Regions from separate parts of the Homo sapiens genome. Here region 2 is linked to region 1. The links come from fine-mapping of genetic effects on gene expression. A gene starts in region 1. The other region holds a variant in brackets. All regions are shown on one strand. Distances are between the middles of the regions.

Region 1 (5,383 bases):
TGTACCCTAGAACTTAAAGTATAAAGAAAAAAAAAAAGATTAGACAGACAAGGCCCATTATAGAAATCTCTTAGAAGACTTTCATAAATGCTCAGGACTGTAGGCAGACACACAAAACTGCAAAGGCATTGCTTCAAGCCACTCCTCACTGTTTCTAAGAGTAGTTGACTGTAGTAAAATACAACAAGGTCAACAAAATCCAGATGAGTCAGTAATATCATATTTTGAGAGGTGTGAGTAAACTTAAACAATATTCGGGTTTATCTGAAGAAAGCTAAGCTAATAATCAAAATGATATTCTTCTCAACTCCAGTTTTATAAATAGGTTAGATGAAGAATTAGCACTAATAATGAAAAGACAAAACCCTCGCTGGGCCACTTCTCAAAATCATAATTTGGTCAGTCTTGCTGCCCAGTTGTCTCATAACTGAAGACAAATCTGAGAAGGAGGCCAAACAAAAGAGCAAGGCTAATAAAATTATGATTTTACAGTCGAAACAAATGTCCACACAATTTGGACCTTCAAGATATCCTTATAAATCCGCAAATAGACTTAACCATACACTTTCAATTAATGCAAAAAGCCTGATCACATTAAAACGAACTGCCAAAAACTAAAAAGGAAAGAACAACAGGTGGAGTCAGATAATAAAGAATGGGGGTGCTCCATGGAACTTAAAGGGGCCTTTCCTTTTCTCCTTACACTCTGAGAGAAAAGAAATTGTTTAAAACTCCCCTTACTGTTTTCATCCCTCATTCTGTGGAAGCATTGCTAAACTTGAACCACACTCAACGTTATTCAATGAGTAGACTAACTTCATAGAAAGTTTCACTTCTTTTAGCTTCTCATGTCACCATCTCTAGATGTAACAAGCTAAATATTGCAACTCTTCTTCCTTCACTTTCAGATGAAACACCACACAATTGCATAACTCTAACTGATAAACTTGTTTTCTCCTAGGACTGATCTGCAAGAGACTTTTCTTACTTAGGCTAATGTTGTTTGGTTTACAGACGCATGTTATTTAAAGGATGAATCTGGAACTTACTGTAAAGGTTTACGCAATAGTGTCTTTAACAGAAGAAATAGAAAGTGCTTACCTTCCAGAAGCCACTTAGATTCACTTCTGTCTTTGTACCACAACTGTGTATTGAAGATGTCATTTGCCATGTACAGGCCCTAACCAATTACACACAAAAGGCCCTAAATAACAGCCACATGAATGTCTCATTATTAAATAATGAAGTTACTGTCATGAGAAGACTGTATTACAAAACTGTATGGTCTTAGACATACTCACTGCAGCCCAAGGAGGAATCTGTGCTATGACAGAAACTGAATGCTGTGTTTATATCCCAGATGAATCAAATAACGTCACCAAATTAATAACTGATTTGAAAAACTCTAATAATTAACCTTTCGGATCCAAAACCCTCTCTAAGCTACTGGTTAAGTAATTGATTTGGATCTTGGGGAACTTGGTGGCAAAAGCTGTTATGTATTTTAGGAATTATCATAGTTTGTGTTTTGTCTTGCCTTTGTCTGCAGAGCTGTTATGGTATTTATCTGCAATTGGGTCAACACACAGCTGAGAAAATGTGTAGAACAAAGACTACTCAGAGAATTGTTTGATTGAAGAGGCAGCCGTGTAGCCTGAATCAGGTTCCAGAACTACTTTCTCTTGTTGCTTTATAATTCGGACTTGGTCCTTTCCAATTTCCCCTCCTCCCTGGGATGTGACTGCCAGGAAGGGGCCTTCCTAGTGACATGAGGTTTGATCAAATACACGGCCTGAGAATATAATTCTTCTATAATGCTTTCTCTGAAAGCTTTTGAAGAAAAGGGGAAAATGTGAAAAGAAAATTTCAGCACTTTCCAAACGTACTATGCCAAGGGGAAAAGTTAAGCCCTGTAAACTAAATCACAGAACATGGCTGTTTTTCTTCTCTGGTGCATGACTGTTGCTTCCTGATCTTTGTGTTGATGTTATATATTAACCAGATTTTTTATTCTTTATTCAGACTAAATGACGTTGGAGATAGAGACCCTTGTGATTGTTACCTCTTTACAATAGAATATTAAACAACCCCCTTACAGTGTAATCAATAGTAGTGAATTGAATCTTCTGTGTACGTTAGCCTCATCTAGAAAATGCTGTAATTACGTACAGCACTCCTGTTTTTGGTGATATAAATGACCCTCACCTTTCCCTGCATCAGGGAGCACTGATCACCATTCTTTGCTGTCAGTGGTTCCCGGGATAGCCGCCCTCACACTTTGCACTTGAATAAACTCTTTCAACTGGATCCCTGAGCTTTTTGGTTATTTTAGGCTGACATTAGTTAACTAACAAGATGTTAGTTCTTCAGTCTGTTAATTCTGAGGGGTTGACCAGAGGTCCTGTAAGGTCCCTTCCAACTCTAACATTCCACGATTTCGTGAATTTAAAGACTGTGGTTGCCCCTGTATTAACTGGGTTCAGGAGTAAGATAGATAAATTAAGTCATCCAATCGACAAATATTTATTACAGTTCTCTATTGTGTGTAGGTGTATCTGTGGAAATAGGAAACTGTATTTTGGTGCACTCCTGCTTCCAAATCACAGAACTACAACTCCTTCAGCAGAAATTTTCTAAGCTTCCCGCACCAGCCAGAGACCAAGATTCTGCGGTGCACATAGTCAAGGGTTGCTATGGAGTCCAACACGGCCCCAAACAGAAGTGGTCCCTGAAAATTTCTTTCCCAGAAAACTTGCATTTGAAAAACAATGCCATTCCAATTCGCCTTTTCCTAAAGTAAACTCATAAATAGAGACAACCAAACTTTCGCTCTCAGCCCAGAGAACGACGCTCTCCTCCCAAGAGGAACCTCGGCTCTTCCGCGGCAGAAGCTGCACGGAACCAAGAAGCCGCGGGCGCTGGTTCTCCAACGAGCTTTTCTCCCGTTCGTACCAGCGTCCAGGCGGGGTTACCGTGGAGACAGAACGTGCTGTGTGGATGCGGCGAAACGCTGAGGCGCGGCCTTCGCTGTGTGGTGGGGACTCACAAGACCGACGTCAAGATGGTTAGTGGCTCTGAATAGTAAGGGAGTACTTTGAGTAGGTCCTGAGGCTGGCGATTAGAGGTTCCCAGCACACTTCTGTGTGAAGTCTAGGTGTGTCCGCAGAGAGTAATCCCCAGCTCTCCCTGTGTTCCCACGGGGGACAGGGATGCAACTGTAAATACCTCGGTGCTTTCTTCCCTCCTGCTTTTCCGTTTACTCACATTTAAACCACTCGTGGGATGGGAAGCAGAGGAAGGGAAAGCTGAGATGACAGAAGCAATGCGAAAGCATCTCTAGCCAGAGAAGATAAAAGTTGGGAGTAGCTGTTTGGTCCTTCCTAAGTATTGGCTGATGGCTCTTCTAGTAGAATACCTGTTACAAAACGAGTTTGAATAGGCTTCCCTGGGGTTCGTTGTTAAGGATTTGACTTATAATTTTTTTTTTTTTTTTGAGATGGAGGCTCGCTTTGTCGCCCAGGTTGGAGTGCAGTGGCGCGATCTTGGCTCACTGCAACCTCTGCCTCTAGGTTCAAGCGTTTCTTCTGCCTCAGCCTCCCGAGTAGCTGGGACTACAGGCGCATGCCACCACGCCCGGCTAATTTTTGTATTTTTAGTAGAGATGCGGTGTCACCATATTGACCAGGCTGGTCTCCAACTCCTGACCTCGTGATCCGCCGCCTTCGCCTCTCAAAGTGCTGGGATTACAGGCATGAGCCACTGTGCCCGGCCTTGACTTATAAATTACAGAGCTGTCACTCTCAGTTTAAATCTGATAATCAGAATTGGACCATACAGCTGTCTTTGTTTCTTTTACAGATGCTTTCAAGGGCCAAACCTGCTGTAGGCAGAGGCGTACAGCACACTGACAAAAGAAAGAAGAAAGGTAGGAAGATTCCAAAACTAGAGGAGCTACTTTCAAAAAGAGATTTCACTGGAGCTATTACCCTGTTGGAGGTAATGCCCAAAGAACGTTGCTTCTTAGTGTATGAATACCAGACTGTAGATGAATGCTTGGGTGAATGCTGTTTGCTATGCTCTTGAAATAGGTGGGTGCATTCTGGGGCTTCCTGTACAAATCCCCTGTAAATCTAGTCAGGCACAGATTCCAGATTCCAAGTTAGCTATAAACCTGATAAAAAACGAACTAAAAAACTAAACTTGGCCGGGCGCGGTGGCTCATGCCTGTAATTCCAGCACTTCGGGAGGCCGAGACGGGCAGATCACAAGGTCAAGAGATCGAGACCATCCTGGCCAACATGGTGAAACCCCGTCTCTATTGAAAATACAAAAATTAGCTGGGCATGGTGGCACGTGTCTGTAGTCCCAGCTACTCGGGAGGCTGAGGCTGGAGAATCGCTTGAACCCGGGAGGCGGAGGTTGCAGTGAGCCAAGATCATGCCACTGCACTCCAGCCTGGCTACAAGGCGAGACTCCGTCTCAAAAAAAAAAAAAAAAAAAAACAAAACAAAACTTATTTCTTGAGGGCCACTTTTGAGTATGTCTAGTTCACCAACAGTGATTACAATCTAAAAATATGAAGGGACCTTTTATACAATGTCATTTCACACATTGCTTATCCCAACCCTTGACCAATGTATGATTTTTTCCTATTATGTGTTCTAAAATTTTGATCAAACTTAAATAATTCTAACATGCTTACGGTTGAAAATATAGCCCCAGAAAATATTTCAAATCTCCATGGCAGTAGTTCTCACCTTTTAATATACATTGGAATTACCTAGGGTACTTAATAAGATATCGATTCCTGGGCTCCTGCTGTAAGTCTGCAGAGGTGCTCAGGAATCTGCATTTTAAGGTGAGTAGTCTAAGTGCTTCTGATGGAGATGGTCCCAGGAGACTGTGCTTTAAAAAACTGCTTTGTGGGAAACACATGTTATAGGAGGGTGAAGGGTTGCACCAAAGAATGAAGAGTTCTGACAGCATGGTCTGGTTGTGTTGTACCACACTCATTTCTCTTAAAATGCTACTCTGTCCATATTACTCTGAATCTACCCTTAATAATTGTTATAATTAGGTTTACATATATTTCTCCATCTTCCACAAATAGTTCACTTTCTTTTTTTTTTCTTTTTTCTTTTTTTGAGTTGGAGTTTCACTCTTGTCACCCAGGCTAGAGTGCAATGGCGCAATCTCAGCTCACTGCAACCTGCACCTCCCTGGTTCAAGCAATTCTCCTGCCTCAGCCTCCTGAGTAGCTGGGATTAGAAGTGCCTGCCACCATACCTGGCTAATATTTTGTATTTTTAGTAGAGATGGGGTTTCACCATGTTGGCCAGGCTGGTCTCCAACTCCTGGCCTCAGGTGATCCACCTGCCTCGGC
Region 2 (5,383 bases), 31 kb before region 1:
AGGCGGAGGTTGCAGTGAGCTGAGATCACACCACTGCACTCTAGCCTGGGTGACAGAACAAAAAATAAATAAATAAATAAATAAATAAACCTCAAAAAAGTAAATAAATAAAATAAATAGTTTTAGCCATTTTTAAAATGGTAAAAAACAAACAAAAAATAAATACTTTATCTCAAAAAATAAATAAAAATAGTTTTAGCCATTTTTAAAATGGTAAAAAACAAACAAACAAAAACTGTTACAAACAAAAATAGAGTGCTATGATGACCAAAAAAGTAAAATGCGAATAAGAAGCAACTACTAAGATGCCAAGTAAGACAAACTTAAAAAAATGAGTAATAAGACTTAAAAGGGCTAGAGATCCAGAATATATAAAGAATTAAAACCACAATGAGGGCTGGGCGCGGTGGCTCACGCCTGTAATCCCAGCACTTTGGGAGGCCAAGGTGGGCAGATCACGAGGTCAGGAGATCGAGACCACCCTAGCGAACATGGTGAAACCCTGTCTCTACCCAAAATACAAAAAAAAAAAATTAGCCAGGGGTGGTGGCATGCACCTCTAGTCCCAGCTACTCAGGAGGCTGAGGCAGAATGGCGTGAACCCAGGAGGCGGAGACTGCACTGAACCGAGATTGCACCACTGCACTCCAGCCTGGGCGACAGACCGAGGCTCTGTCTCAAAAAAAAACAAAAACAAAAACAAAAACAAACAAAAAAAACCACAGTGATACAATTTCACATTCCTTGTATTGGCACAAATTTTTAAAAGCTGACGATACCACTTGGCCACTATGTGAGGCAAGGGAAGGCTCTTATTCTTCTGGTGGGAGTATAACTTGGCAAACACACTTCGGAAAACAATTTGGCATTATCACATAAAACTTTAAGAATCAAAATTCCACTCTCCCTCTCTTTCCACGGTCTCCCTCTCCCTCTCTTTCCACGGTCTCCCTCTCCCTCTCTTTCCACGGTCTCCCTCTCCCTCTCTTTCCACGGTCTCCCTCTCCCTCTCTTTCCACCGTCTCCCTCTGATGCGGAGCCGAGGCTGGACTGTACTGCTGCCATCTCGGCTCACTGCAACCTCCCTGCCTGATTCTCCTGCCTCAGCCTGCCGAGTGCCTGCGATTGCAGGCGCGTGCCGCCACGCCTGACTGGTTTTCGTATTTTTTTGGTGGAGACGGGGTTTCGCTGTGTTGGCCGGGCTGGTCTCCAGCTCCTAACCGCGAGTGATCCGCCAGCCTCGGCCTCCCGAGGTGCCGGGATGGCAGACGGGGTCTTGCTCACTCAGTGCTCAATCTTGCCCAGGCTGGAGTGCAGTGGTGTGATCTCGGCTAGCTACAACCTCCACCTCCCAGCCGCCTGCCTTGGCCTCCCAAAGTGCCGAGATCGCAGCCTCTGCCCTGCCGCCACCCCGTCTGGGAAGTGAGGAGCGTCTCTGCCTGGCCGCCCATCGTCTGGGATGTGAGCAGCCCCTCTGCTCGGCTGCCCAGTCTGGGAAGTGAGGAGCGCCTCTTCCCGGCCGCCATCCCGTCTAGGAAGTGAGGAGCGTCTCTGCCAGGCCGCCCATCGTCTGAGATGCGGGGAGCGCCTCTGCCCTGCCGCCCCGTCTGGGATGTGAGGAGCGCCTCAGCCCGGCCACCACCCCGTCTGGGAGGTGTACCCAACAGCTCATTGAGAACGGGCCATGATGACGATGGCGGTTTTGTGGAATAGAAAAGGGGGAAAGGTGGGGAAATGATAGAGAAATCGGATTGTTACTGTGTCTGTGTAGAAAGTAGACATGGGAGACTTCATTTTGTTCTGTACTAAGAAAAATTCTTCTGCCTTGGGATGCTGTTGATCTATGACCTTACCCCCAACCCTGTGCTCTCTGAAACATGTGCTGTGTCCACTCAGGGTTAAATGGATTAAGGGCGGTGCAAGATGTGCTTTGTTAAACAGATGCTTGAAGGCAGCAGACTCGTTAAGAGTCATCACCACTCCCTAATCTCAAGTACCCAGGGACACAAACACTGCGGAAGGCCGCAGGGTCCTCTGCCTAGGAAAACCAGAGACATTTGTTCACTTGTTTATCTGCTGACCTTCCCTCCACTATTGTCCTATGACCCTGCTAAATCCCCCTCTGTGAGAAACACCCAAGAATGATCAATAAAAAAAAAAAAAAATCAAAATTCCACTACTAGATCTCTAGGGAAACTCATGTACATGTACACAAAGAAGCATATACCAAAATGTTCAAAGCATAATGGTTTAATAGCAAATACTTAAAACAATATCAATTTTACTTTGTTTTTTCAGAGGCAGGGTCTCATTCTATTGCCCAGGCTGGAGGGCAGTGGCGCAACTGCACCTGACCGCAGCCTTGTCCTCCCAGGCTCAAGTGATCCTCCCGCCTCAGCCTCCTGAGTAACTGGGACCACAGGTGTGTGCCACTGTGTCCAACTAATTTTATTTTTTAATGTTTTTGTAGGAGCTATGTTGCCCGGGCTGGTCTCGAACCCCTGACTTCAAGAGATTCTCCCACCTCGGCCTCTTGAAGTACTGGGATTACAGATATTAGCTACTGAGGCCAGTCTCAATTTTAATAATAAGAAGATCAATATATAAATTGTGTACATTCATGCAAAAGAAAACAATGAAGACATTTCAGGGAATCAGAGTAGACCTTCTCTAAAATTGGTGGGGCCCAGAGCAAGGTTATAAATGGAGGCTTGGATACAAATGTCTAAATATTTAACAGTAATAAATCATGCTGAGCTGGGCTTAGTGGCTCATGCCTGTAATCCCAGCAGTTTGGGAGGCTGAGGCAAGAGGAATGCTTGAGCCCAGGCACTCGAGACCAGCCTGGGCAAAATAGTGAGACACTGTCTCTA[T/TACAC]ACACACACACACACACACACACACACACACACACACACACACAAATTAGCCAGGTATGGTGGCACTAGCCTGGTCCCAGCTACTGGGAGGCTGACATGGGAGGATCGTTTGAATCCAGGAGGTGGAGGCTGCAGTGAGCCATATTTGCACCACCACACTCCAGAGTGGTGACAGAACAAGATCCTGTCTCAAAAAAAAAAAAAGTATATATATATGTATATGTATATGTATATGTATATGTATATGTGTGTGTGTGTTTATATATGATATATATAAAATAAAAACTTTAATACAAAAACTTTAAAATTTGTTGTAAAAAAATTTTTTTGGAGACAGAGCCACACTCTGTTGCCCAGGCTGGTGTGCACTGGCATGAACATAGCTCACTGTAACCTCAAAATTCCTGGGATCAAACAATCCTTCTGCCTCAGCCTCCAGCACTGCTAGGACTATGGGCATGCACCACCACGCCCAGCTAATATTTTTTATATAATTATTTTTATTTTTTATTTATTTTACTTGTTTTTTATTTTTTTATTTTTTTATTTTTTTTTTATTTTTTGATGGGGTCTCACTATGTTGTCCAGGCTAGTCTTGAACTCCTGTCCTCAATCCTCTCATCTTGGCCTCCCAAAGCACTGGGAGTACACCCATGAGCCACTGCACCCAGCCCAGGAAAAAAATTTTTTTTGAATTCAAATAATGACTATTTCAAAGCCTTCCGACTGGCATAAGCCAAAAAAGTCTGATAACACCAAGCATTAATTGGCCAGAAAATGAGGAAACTGGGACACTCAGACATATAAGTATAAATTGGCACAGCCACCTTTATACTAATTCGTCAGAATCTGGAAAAGTTGAAGCTATGTAACAATTCAAACCAACAATTCCACTTCCTAATGATCTACCCTGGAAAAGCTCTAACCATGAGCACCAGGAAACACTTGCACGTAAATTCTTGGCAGCACGATTTGGTATAACAAAAACCTGGAAATATACTATATATCCATTACTGGGGGGAATAGGTAACTGAACTGTGGTATAAATCCTATGATGAAATACTTTTCAACTGTTAAAATGAATAAACTAGGTCCTTGTGTAGCAATATGAATAGATCTCCAAAACACAGCATTGAATAAAAATTCTAAAACACATAAAATACTACATTTTGTATATGGATGCAAACATATACAAGAGGAAATTATAAAATCATGGAAGGACAAGATACACACCAAAATCATGATTGAAGCTGCTTCTTAGGAAAGGGAAATGAGACTGGGGATGAGAAAAAAATAACCTTAGGTCTGTTATGATTGTTTAGTATATTTTAAAAGAGGAGCAAAACTGAAAAATGTGAACACTTATTTATCCCAGGAGGTGAGTTATAACTTTTATGGGTTCAGAATAAATATTCTCTGATGCTTGCGTTTTTCAGTATTCTATTCAACTTGCGAAACAGTCAACTAGTCCTCTTCCCATCTACCCACCCCCACCCAAAATGTGAATTAACCGAAAAGGAAAGACATACAAACAGGAAAGAACCCAGAGGAAACACCCACATCGGCAAAAACCGCAAAGCAAGGTAAAGACCCTTAGGCAGCCTGCTTGAAACAGTTAACAGAAATCATGCAGGCAAAATAAATTTTTGAATTAATAACTTCATATAGTTACTGGACAATGTAAGTAGCTAGTTAAGAAGTCAAGGCCGGGCGCGGTGGCTCACGCCTGTAATCCCAGCACTTTGGGAGGCTGAGGTGGGCGGATTGCCTGAGCTCAGGAGTTGGAGACCAGACTGGGCAACATAGTGAAATCCCGTCTCTACTAAAATACAAAAATGAAAAAAAATTAGCCAGGCGTGGTGGCAGGCGCCTGTAGTCCCAGCTACGCGGGAGGCTGAGGCAGGAGAATCGCTTGAACCGGGGAGGCGGAGGTTGCAGCGAGCTGAGATCACGCCACTGCACTCCAGCCTGGCAACAGAGCGAGACTCTGTCACAAAAAAAAAAAAAAAAAAAAAAAAAGTCAAACAAGGCCGGGAGCGGTGGCTCATGCCTGTAATCCTGCACTTTGGGAGGCTGGGAAGATTGCTTAAGCCTAGGAGTTTGAGAGCAGCCCAGGCAAAATGGCAAAATCCCATCTCTACTAAAAAATACAAAAATTAGCTGGGTGTGGTGGCACATGCTTGTAATCCCAGCTACTCGGGAGGCTGAGGCAGGACAATCGCTTGAACCGGGGAGGCGGAGGTTGCAGCGAGCTGAGATCACGCCACTGCACTCCAGCCTGGGTGACAGAGTGAGACTCTGTCTCAAAAAAAAAAAAAAAAAAAAAGAAAAGAAAAGTTAGCCGGACATGGTGGCGCCCACCTGTAGTCCCAGCTACTCAGGAGGCTGAGGGAGGAGGATCATCTGAGCCTAGGAATTCGAAGTGGCAGTGAGCTATGACCGTGCCACTGCACTTCAGTCTGGGTGACAAAGCAAGATCTCATTTCTAAAGAAAAAAAAAAGGAAGTCAT

The links. PIP is the estimated chance that this variant, and not a neighbour inherited with it, causes the effect.
Region 2: its variant is the best candidate, but not a certain one, in a credible set for the expression of IFT56 in whole blood (INTERVAL, PIP 0.82).

The regions. Positions count from the first base shown.
Region 1 is chr7:139,130,797-139,136,179 of GRCh38, forward strand. It overlaps IFT56 (intraflagellar transport 56), which reads left to right and starts at 2,982. Exons shown (of 18, transcript NM_024926.4): 1 at 2,982-3,064; 2 at 3,859-3,996. The coding sequence starts at 3,062. RefSeq lists enhancers at 2,807-3,101, 2,819-2,998.
Region 2 is chr7:139,099,855-139,105,237 of GRCh38, forward strand. The region is part of intron 1 of ZC3HAV1 (zinc finger CCCH-type containing, antiviral 1); the gene reads right to left. Among named protein-coding and RNA genes, the nearest start is that of ZC3HAV1, 7.2 kb to the right of the region's middle. RefSeq lists an enhancer at 1,921-2,492. The variant T/TACAC (reference allele first, on the strand shown) is at 2,874.